2 separate regions of the Homo sapiens genome follow, and region 1 is linked to region 2. The links come from fine-mapping of genetic effects on gene expression. A gene starts in region 2. The other region holds a variant in brackets. All regions are shown on one strand. Distances are between the middles of the regions.

What was found. PIP is the estimated chance that this variant, and not a neighbour inherited with it, causes the effect.
Region 1: its variant is fine-mapped to the expression of NOP9 in whole blood (GTEx, PIP 0.92).

What each region holds. Positions count from the first base shown.
Region 1 is chr14:24,259,711-24,265,010 of GRCh38, reverse strand. TGM1 (transglutaminase 1) reads left to right here and starts at 1,834. Exons shown (of 15, transcript NM_000359.3): 1 at 1,834-1,922; 2 at 2,657-2,977; 3 at 3,128-3,316; 4 at 4,313-4,561; 5 at 4,953-5,071; 6 at 5,200-5,300. The coding sequence starts at 2,659. RefSeq lists an enhancer at 1,351-1,359 and promoters at 1-1,846, 229-1,895, 2,456-2,651, 906-2,659, 1-2,659. The variant G/A (reference allele first, on the strand shown) is at 2,503.
Region 2 is chr14:24,296,623-24,301,986 of GRCh38, reverse strand. NOP9 (NOP9 nucleolar protein) reads right to left here and starts at 2,137. Exons shown (of 10, transcript NM_174913.3): 1 at 1,786-2,137; 2 at 1,130-1,579; 3 at 265-375; 4 at 1-22. The coding sequence starts at 2,032. It overlaps DHRS1 (dehydrogenase/reductase 1), which reads left to right and starts at 2,207. Exons shown (of 9, transcript NM_001136050.3): 1 at 2,207-2,406; 2 at 2,857-3,030; 3 at 5,106-5,249. The coding sequence starts at 2,881. RefSeq lists an enhancer at 2,863-3,653.

The DNA of each region.
Region 1 (5,300 bases), 37 kb after region 2:
GGGATGAGATTTTTAGGCCCAGTGTACTGATGAGGAAACTGCTGTTGAGACTTGCCCAAGGTTCTTGGCCGGAGCGCTTCAGCACTGAAACCAAAGTTGTCTCTACCCTTGGTCTAGGATTCTAGACTCATGTTCTTGCTTCTGTATTGCTAAGGAATGGTTGGGCAGCGGCCTGGCCTCAGCTCCTTGAGGTCCTGAGCTGAGTGTCTGCTCCCATGGTGTCCCCCCACACATACCATGTACACACCTTGTCCTGACCTAGAGAGTCCTGAGTGGTGGTGGGGGGAGGGGACTGGCTCAGGGGTTAGGGCACTGACTCAAACCTGGCTGGGTGGGGAGAGAAAGATTGATTAAAGCTAGGGAGAGAGTGTGACAAAGGCATCCTACTGGTTCTCTGGGATCTGCCTGGGCCCACATGTGCTCACACACGTCCGGACAGCCAGGGCCCTGCCCCTTCCCGTATCTGCAGTGATGCACAAATCCGCAGCCCCTGCACAAAGCCCTCTGGCTGACCTGCCTGGAAGTTTATATCCACTGGTGTGTCTACTGAGGGTGTTGGAGGTGGGGCACCTGCCCCCACCCCCGGGCAGGTTCTGGTGCTTGGAGCTGGACAAGAAAAGGCAGTGTGGGTGTGGAGGGCTCCCTGCCAGTTCCTGGGGCCTCTCTGTCCCCACTCCCCACGGCACCTCCCTGCCTGATGCATCACCAAACAGCCCCTCCTGGATTCTGTTTCCTTGTGTCTTCTTGTCGGCCTGTTTTTACTGTCTTCTGCTAGGCGGCCCATGGGCAGAGCTGGGACACTAGTGGGAAGGAAGGAAAGAAGGAAGAAGGCCCTGGCTGACGGGCCTGAGGACAAGACCCAAGGAGAGCCTCCCTGAAGATGCCTAGCCTCCTCCTCTCTACCTTGGGATCGCCTTGGTGCCATCCTCAGTGTTTCCCCAGTGACGGGGTGGAGTAAGGATGCACACAGCACAGGTGCCTGAGCCGGTTGGTCTGGATTCCCAGGAAGAATTCCAGGTTGGAGAAAAGGGAATCCTCTAGTCCAACTGAGCAGAGACTCCTCTCAGTGAGAGAAAGGTACTCTGTACCCCTGGAAGGGGGACTCAGTTCCCACCCAAGCCTGAGTGGAAAGGCCTAAACATCCCCTAACCCCCGAGGCTACAGCGGGGGTGGGGGACGTGAAATGAGATTGCTCCTACTCTGATCTCCCTAATCCCAAACTTGAGGGCAGCTCACTCATGCCTGGGGCTGTAGAGCAGCTGAGAAAGAAGGGACAGACTTGGGGGTGGAGGGAGTCAGAATATCTGGTAGAGCCAGCAGGTCAGGGGTTAGCTGGTGGAGCCAGTCTGAGGGCCTGGCTGCTGATGTCACCAGTCTGCAACCTGGGATCCCAGGACCTCCCTGGGCAGGATGAGTTCCAGGACCAGGCCCCTGGGCCAATTTCATAGGGCTGAGCCTGGCTTGGGCTGCACAGAACTCGGCAGCAGGAGCCTGTGAGAGCAGAGGTAGGCAGCCTAAGCTTGGGACCAGAAGGTCGGCCAGACAGGGCTGTGGGTGGAAGGGCCTGCCTGCCCCACTGCCCTTGCAGCTTCTTCATCCGGGAGAAGGGGCTCCTCACATGCCCAGTCTGGTAGGAATCAGCCTGGTGCCAGGGGCCATCACAGCGGTGGCTCCCACCAAAGCCCAGCCTAAGCCCCCAGACCTCACCCCTGCTCCCTCCCTAGCATCTTCTCCCCATTTCCCGCCCAGAGGCCTGGCCTCTTCTCTCCGCCCCCTACAGCAGTTTGGCCCCTCCCTCCCACATAAGTCACTTACCAGGTCTGTCCCTGCGGCATCCAGTCTGTGGGTCCTGTCCCATCCATCCTGACCTGTTCCATCTCAGCCCCAGGACTCAGTACTGCGGTTGCCAACACTGCTGCCAGGTGAGGGGCTCCCACGGGTACTGTGGTGCCGAGTCCAGGCGGCCCACACTATCAGAGGCCGTGCCTGGATCCAGCAAGGTGGGGTGTGGGCCAGCTGTGTACCTGTCAGCCCCAGCTAGGCTGTTCCCAACACCAAGACTCTGCTTTCCCTGTGCACAGGCTCCGGGCACCTGCCATGCCCTACCCCTCCTGGCAGCCCCAAGTGGGGTCTTCCCTGACTTGGGAATGCCAAGGACCACAGGCCCCGGGGTCACTTGTCTGTCTTGTGAGGAACCTTGAGTTGGGGGATTTCTGCTAAGAAATGAGTTCTAGAAGCTGTCAGTGTTGTGCACCTCTAGACTGCAGAGCTAGCAGGTGGACGGACCAGGCCCAGGGATGCTGGAGCACTCTGATGTGTGTGCAGCTGGGTCTTGAGGCTGGGACAAGTGTCCATGCAGGGAACTATGTGGATTTCCTGGGATGGATCGTTGAGTGGGTTTCTTCATTGGGCAGTTTTTCGGATGTTGTTTGGTGGGGGTGAGGGGAAGGCTTTTCTCTGCAGCATGAGAAGCTTCTCTGGGTGAGTCTGAATGGTCTTCGC[G/A]GAAGGTCTCTGGATGTGTCTGGAGAATCTCTGGGCCAAGGTGGGATTGTTTCGGTCATCGGGTGGGACTGAATCAGCTGTCTGGATGGAGGGTTTCTGGGTCAACTGGCTGGGACTACCTGGGTTAAGGAGCCACCCTGCCTCTTCCTAACAGGCATGATGGATGGGCCACGTTCCGATGTGGGCCGTTGGGGTGGCAACCCCTTGCAGCCCCCTACCACGCCATCTCCAGAGCCAGAGCCAGAGCCAGACGGACGCTCTCGCAGAGGAGGAGGCCGTTCCTTCTGGGCTCGCTGCTGTGGCTGCTGTTCATGCCGAAATGCGGCAGATGACGACTGGGGACCTGAACCCTCTGACTCCAGGGGTCGAGGGTCCAGCTCTGGCACTCGAAGACCTGGCTCCCGGGGCTCAGACTCCCGCCGGCCTGTATCCCGGGGCAGCGGTGTCAATGCAGCTGGAGATGGCACCATCCGAGGTGAGGCCGGTCTGTCCTCCTCAGCTGAGAGCTAAAAGGCTTTAATGGGACCAGAGACTCAGCCTGGCATTTCTGGGGGGGATAGGAAGCTAATGATAAGGGCCTGGGCTCCTCATGGGGCTTCACTGACACGGAGCTGTGTCCTTGCAGAGGGCATGCTAGTAGTGAACGGTGTGGACTTGCTGAGCTCGCGCTCGGACCAGAACCGCCGAGAGCACCACACAGACGAGTATGAGTACGACGAGCTGATAGTGCGCCGCGGGCAGCCTTTCCATATGCTCCTCCTCCTGTCCCGGACCTATGAATCCTCTGATCGCATCACCCTTGAGTTACTCATCGGTCAGTGGGGCTTGGATTGGGACGGGTGAAGGCCCTATGTTTGGTGGGGAGAGGCTGGCATTAGGGTCAGAGAGGTCTTTAGGCTCCTCCCTGCCCCACTCCTCACCTCTGCCAGATAAGGCAGGTGCAAGTGTGTGGGTGTGCCCCTGGGGTTGTGTCTCAGAGAGGGTCTTGGTGTTGCAGTTTTTCCCAAGCCCATCCTCCTCAAGCCTCCTGGGGCATCGGTCTCAGAGTACTCCTCTTCAGGGCCTGCCTCGGTGCCTCCTTCGGCATTGCTGCTCTGTCCTTTGTGCATCTGTTCTCATTCCCCAGGATGTGGCTGGTTCTCTCTTCTATCTCTCTCTCTCCCTCTTGCCTTCCATGTCCCCCATCTCTGCCAATTCTGTCTCTCTCTGTCTCTGTCCCTCTGTCCCCATGACCCAAGGCAGGTGCCTCCCTTACCGCGTTGCTTGGTGTAGCTTGACTTCTCAGGCTGGTGATTATGCTGCTGCCTGGGGCAGGTGACTCCTTTTACCCTTTGATTAGGGCCTAACCTTGCCCACCTCATCCTTTAATTTCCCAGGAACCCCTACCACCTCCACCAGGGATGCCCTGGGCTCTGGAAGCTGCAGCCCCAGGAAGCAGGCAGGGTTGGCCTTCAGGATCAGGACTGCCCTTTCATACGGGGCAGGTGGATCTGCCCCTCCAGCCCAGGCACTGTGATAGTCAGGCAGGCAGAAGGTGACAGGAGCCCTCGTCTCTCCTCCCCACCTCAGAGTTCAGTGTCAGGGGAACAGGTTTGGGATGTTGGACTGCGGCACTGCCCTAACATGTGGGCAAGCATTGGGTGGAGACAGAGCTGCTCTAAGGGAGACTGTCAGAGAATAAGGTGATGGCCCAACGTAGGGACATACACAGTGGCTCATACACATTGTGGGTGGGGCCGGGAGAAGTCCCAGGCTCCATCCCCTCTCCTCAGGGAGGCCTTGCCAGCTAATTGCTGATTTCCTACTCTAGGAAACAACCCCGAGGTGGGCAAGGGCACGCACGTGATCATCCCAGTGGGCAAGGGGGGCAGTGGAGGCTGGAAAGCCCAGGTGGTCAAGGCCAGTGGGCAGAATCTGAACCTGCGGGTCCACACTTCCCCCAACGCCATCATCGGCAAGTTTCAGTTCACAGTCCGCACACAATCAGACGCTGGGGAGTTCCAGTTGCCCTTTGACCCCCGCAATGAGATCTACATCCTCTTCAACCCCTGGTGCCCAGGTGAGCAGCTGGGGTCTGGAGCAGAGGGTAGATGGGAGGGAAAGACAGGGAAGGGCTTCCTGCCCTCGGATGTGGCGGGGTGCCTAGGTGCCTGACCCCAGGAGAAGCCAGCCTCCCATTGGGCAGATGAGAGGACCGAGGCCTGGTGCAGAAAGGTGGCCAGCCCAGGGTCACACAGCCAGCCACACCTCTCCTGGCAAAGGCCCCTGGCTACAGCCAATCTCCTCCACCATCTGTCATGCTCCCCGTGTCCTCCCACAGCAGTCCTGTCAGGCTAGGGGCATCCCCGCATTTTCTTCTGTGGACATGAGTCCTGCAGAACTGGCCAGAAGTAGGTGAGGCCCAGGGAGAGAACTGGAGGGAACCAGTTTTGTGTGTTCTGGGGACACAGAGGACATTGTGTACGTGGACCATGAGGATTGGCGGCAGGAGTATGTTCTTAATGAGTCTGGGAGAATTTACTACGGGACCGAAGCACAGATTGGTGAGCGGACCTGGAACTACGGCCAGGTATGGTGCGGCTGGCCAGGGTCACATACACCCAGAGGAGCTGGGGTGGGTGTGGGGGCTGGGGTATTGGAGCAGGGTGCTGGCCTAGGGTTCAGGCTGTCACCTCTGCCCTCCATCCCTCCTTCCAGTTTGACCACGGGGTGCTGGATGCCTGCTTATACATCCTGGACCGGCGGGGGATGCCATATGGAGGCCGTGGAGACCCAGTCAATGTCTCCCGGGTCATCTC
Region 2 (5,364 bases):
GAGATCTTATCAGTGATAAACACTGTGGAGAGAGGGCAGAAATAAAGCGGCTTTCCCAAAATCCAGACAACCTGCGTAACCTCAAACTTTAGGCAACAAGATACAGGGCACTATGGACACAAAGGGACTATACAAAGTGCTCTGAACGTCAAACCAGACCAGGTTTGAAAAGAAGAGGAATAACCTGAGGTAAGGGCCTTGCTTGGTGGTAAGATGACCTCCAGACAAGTAGATACGAGACCATCCTCCTACTTCCCTCCTTACCTGCAATGTCCTTCAGAAAGGAGGAGCTCAGGTCCTGAAGGCGATTCAAAAAGGTTTCAGGGACTTCAAAATCAGCTGGCTTACATTCCTGAGCTGGGGTCTTCTGTGCTTCTGAAGGAAGATTAAGAACATGTGCAGTGGGGAGATCACAAACTGCCATCCAGGAGAGAAAAATTTCACAGATGAACAAGGATTCCGCTTGGAGATGCAGAACAGATGTAGTACAACTAAATGTCTCTTCTGGATGACTGAACTGAGACTACATTTCTGTCTTAATTTTTCTAAGAAACTTCAACCAGCTTCCCCATGGTCCACAGAAGACAGTTCAACCTCCTCAGCCAGGTATTCAAGCCATTCCAAAATAAAGCCTCATTTAAACTCGCTAACTTTATTTCCTAGTTTTTCAAAATGTGGATCACAGCTCAAGACTGTACCATGAAATCAAGTTAGTGGTCTCAACTAGCATTTTTTTTAAATGAAATAGAGCAGAATAGTTTTGAAAAGGAAAAAAAAATAACAGAGTGGGCTGCATGTAGTAAGGGTATAGTTTCCTGAACTTTTGCTTGAGTCCAGTGTGTATGTTACTTTTGCTTAAGTCCATTTGTATATTAAGTCATGCTTAAAAAAAATTCTCCTCCTGCGTCCATTCTAATAGCCTTCCCCAAACACAACTGTACATCCCTACCTCTGGGCCTCCGCACACACTAATCTTTGGCTTGCTAAGCCCTGTTCAGATTAGGACAGGTCAAGCTAATTCTTCCCGGTCAAGCTCCCCCATGAAGACTTACTCTTCTGTTTACTGTCTCATTCTGAACTTTCTAAATTCTTCTTCCCCCTAGGTCCACTTTCCTCTTGTAATACTTACCAGATGATTGGGAACCACGGGGCCTGGCTCTCTCAGACTCCAGAATAGTCCCTCCTAACACCTGAAGCAGAGTTCTGACCACGAAGCTGCCATGTGTGTCTCCACAGTAGACAAGAAAATCATCACACACCTCAGCGGCTAGTCCCAGGACCAGCTCCTCCAGGGTCTCCGTGGGACCATCCTTTCCATCCTCCTCCTCCTCCTCCTCCTCCTCTGCAGCACTCCCCAGCAATCGAGGGAGCTGTAGCAAAGCACTTTGTAATACATGGACCCCGCATCGGTGACAGGCCACAGTGCGCAAGTTAGAGCGCAGAGCAGCCCACACGCGACAAAGCGGTTTCAAGGGACTGAATCCCAACAGTTCCTGCAGCATCTCACTGCCAGTCCTGTTCGTGGACAAAGCTAGGGCCTGAGTCTCTACTTCCTTCATTATATTGTGCACCATCAGATCTGAAAAGGGAAGAAAGACACACTTTGAAGAGACTTAGTAGAGAATACAGTTATGTACCCTCGCTTAACCAAGGGTCGTGGGTCGGAGGCCGAGGAAGAGGACATGGGAAATGAAACTAAGTCCCCACGCCCTGCCGACCCTAGAAAGTTTCCTTGCCTGCCCTGGATTTGATGCTCTTGGTCTAAACCCCGAAGTTGCTGCCTACCTCGTTCTTCCCCAGTCTCGGGAGCCTCTTTCAATGCTGACAGCGCCCGGCGGAAATATCCCAGAGCTTCCGGGCTCAGGTGCGGGTGCGAATCTGGAGCCGGCTCCGAGCGCCCATCCGGAGGCGGCCAGGGTTGCCGCTTACGGCCTGGTAAGGGGCGCCCCGACCCCTTGGCCCCGCGCCCCCGTTTGCCACCAGCTGGGAACCGGCGCCCCACCTTGTGTGGAGAGCGCGGACCCTGCCCCATGTGTGCTTCGCGACCTGTCCGGCTGCAAAAGCTTCCTTAACTGCGGACGGACCTTCGACGTCGCCAAGCGTGCGCCTTATCCAGACAAAGTTTAGAAACGCGGGCGCGCTCCTGACGCAGCTACTACGTCATAGTTCCGCGCCGCCCCAGCCGGGCGGGGTGGGTGTGTCACCCAGATCGCTCCGCCCCCATCCGCAGGTTCTAACTTTGGCCTGGGACTCTGCCCCTCTACCTCAGCACAGAATCGCCCCGGGTCCTACTACAGAATCAATCCTTGAACACTGCCTCCACGTCGCCGGCTCAATCTGGGCGAGAACCCAGACTTCCACCGCAGCCCCGCAATCTGCAGACCTCAGCGGCAGCGCAGGTGGCAGGTAAGCGGCGCACGCTCGTCCCACTTAGGGCTTAGGATCTCCAGGCTTCGCGCTCATCCCCGGCCCGGAAGCTGCGCCTCTGGCTCAGCCGGACTGGGTCAGGCCAGGGACCGGAGCTTCAGATAGCCCAGGACTCTGCGTGGACGCGCCCCGAGGGGCTGCCGCGCCAGATTCCCATATCCAGGCAGCCACACTCAGAGGGTTGTAGTAGTTGTCCACCTCTGGACAGTCCCACTCAGCCCCTTCTTCACTCTCTGGGCCTCCCAAAAGACAGTCAGCCTTGTCCTCAGGCCCGCACCCAGTTGTCAGCCTCTGACTCCTCTCCCCTCAAAGGATTCTTACCTTGGCTCCTCCTCTTAGCCCTAGTGAGGTTCTCCCCTACCCCCCAACCTCGCCCCAACACACACACAGTCTCCAGGCTTCCCTCAGAGTAAGTCTTTGCTTCCACAGACCTGCCTCCTTTGCCTGTGAGTCATGGCAGCTCCCATGAATGGCCAAGTGTGTGTGGTGACTGGTGCCTCCAGGGGTATTGGCCGTGGCATTGCCTTGCAGCTCTGCAAAGCAGGCGCCACAGTTTACATCACTGGCCGCCATCTGGACACCCTTCGCGTTGTTGCTCAGGAGGTGAGTGCTTCCTCTGGGACCACAGTTGCAGAAACCACCCGAGAGAGCCCTTCCACTTAACAGCTCCTTTCCTAATCCCTTACCTGAAACTATAATACTACTCAACAAGATGTGAATATTTATTCAAAGTGGAAATTAAAAACCCCGTAAATAACTTCAGGTAAGGTAGAATTTTGCCGCCAAGTGAGTTTTATGAAAAAACTTTGTGTTTGAGCCAGGCATGGTGGCACGTTCCTGCAGTCCCAGCAGCTACTCCGGAGGCTGAGGCAGGAGGATCGCTTGAGCCTAGGAGTTGAGCCATGATCACACCACTGCACTCCAGTCTAGACGACACAGCGAGACACTGTATTAAAAAAAAGAAAAGAAAGAAAAGTAAAAAACTTTTTGTTTGAGAGCAGAGATTTTGGAATTGCAACTAAAGGGTTGTGGACCTGTGCTTTCCTCTATTTCAGGCAAGACTTTATTGAACTGCACATTTTTTACTTATTTACTAGACTTCAGTTAAATAAATATTTGAGTATCCATGATTTGCTAGGCATTGGTAAACCACTGAAGTTACCAAGACTAATAAAATCTAATTTCTGCTCTTCAAAGATTCAGTCCATGGTGGAGTACAGTGGCTCATGCCTGTAGTCCCAGCACTTTGGGTGGCCAAGGCAGCAAGATCACTTGAGGCCAGCAGTTGGAGACCAGTCTGGGCAACATAGCTAGACCCAGTCTCTACAAAAAATATTTTTTAAATAATTAGCTAGGCACAGTGGCCTGCACCTGTAGTACCATCTACTTGGGAGGCTGAGGCAGGAGGATCGTTTGAGCCCAGGAGTTCGAGGTTGCAGTGAGCTATGATTGCACCACTGCACTCCAGCCTGGTGACAGTGAGACCCTGTCTCTAAAAAAAAAAATTTTAATTAAAAATGAAGATAGATTCCAACAGGAAGTCAGGTACAGAAAGCAGTCACTTCAATGTAATGTGAATATGGTAAATTATAAGAGGGAGATATGCACAGAATACTCTAGGGGTGTTGGGGAGCATCCAGATGACATAGGAGAGTGGCTAGGGAAAGTGGTTTGGGAAAGCGTCCTGGAGGAGGTAGGTGGTTCTTGAACTGAGTTTTGAAAGGTAAGAATTAGGTAAAGGAAGTTAGGAAAAGCATTCCAGCAGAGGGAGCTCCATAAGCATAGGGACGCTGTGTGAAAGAGTAGATGTGTGAGATAATGCAAGGGAAGAGTAGTGAGTGAGAGGCTGGAGAGGAAAGAGTGGGTCTTGGAAGACCCTAATAGAGAACTCAGGCTTCATCCTCTAAGAGATGGAGATCCAGTTAGGAGATTTTGAACAGGGTTTGTGTTTTAGATAGGTCGTACTGGCTGGATTATGAAGAATTAATTTAAGGCAGACAGACTGGAGGTCAGGTGAGTCGTTGGGAGGCATTGCAGTAGTTCAGGCAAGGAGGGTAATAGGCGGGGACCCAGAGCATAAATTTGGAGAATAGGAGGATTGTTCTTAGATAAAGGACTCTTCTTCCTCTGAAGTTGGAGGTTTGTGGGCATTTGTAGAGAGTGAGACAGAACAGGAAGTAGAAATCATTCATGGCTGATAGCTTTGGTTTTTTCAATTACCAACCAGGAGCATTGGTGGAGTGAGGGTAAGACAACTGGGACTGAGTAGAGGTTTTAGGTGAGTAGTGTAGGGTGGGAGCTAAGGGCATGAGAGATGGAAATGACCACAACAAGGAAAAGGATGCTTACTCATTTCTCAAGAGCAGACTCCATGCCTCACTTGTTCTTACCCTCTACTTGCAAAGTACAATGCTGTGCACATGGTGGGCCTCAGTAAATGTTTGTAGATTATTAAAACTTACATTGCAATTCACCTTGCTCTGTGGTGGGGAGGCCTATCATTCCTGAAACTACTCAAACAGACACCAGAGGGCAGCGTTGCCTGCCATGTTGCCTCTGCAGCAGGCTCTCCTAGGATTGATTGTCTTCTCAGTTCTCAAGCCCACTTTGGTTGGGGAGTTTTGTCATGACTCACACCCATGTGTGAATGTGAGCTCATATCCCCTGTCCTACTCCAGGCACAATCCCTCGGGGGCCAATGTGTGCCTGTGGTGTGCGATTCAAGCCAGGAGAGTGAAGTGCGAAGCCTGTTTGAGCAAGTGGATCGGGAACAGCAAGGGCGTCTAGATGTGCTGGTCAACAATGCTTATGCAGGGGTCCAGGTACCCTTTGAACTTTGTTCCCAACTCCACATTTCTGACCTCCCCCTCAGACCCCTGCATCTTCATCCCCACTCATTGTCCCTTCCATTACCCAGCCCCTCACACCTCCCTACCT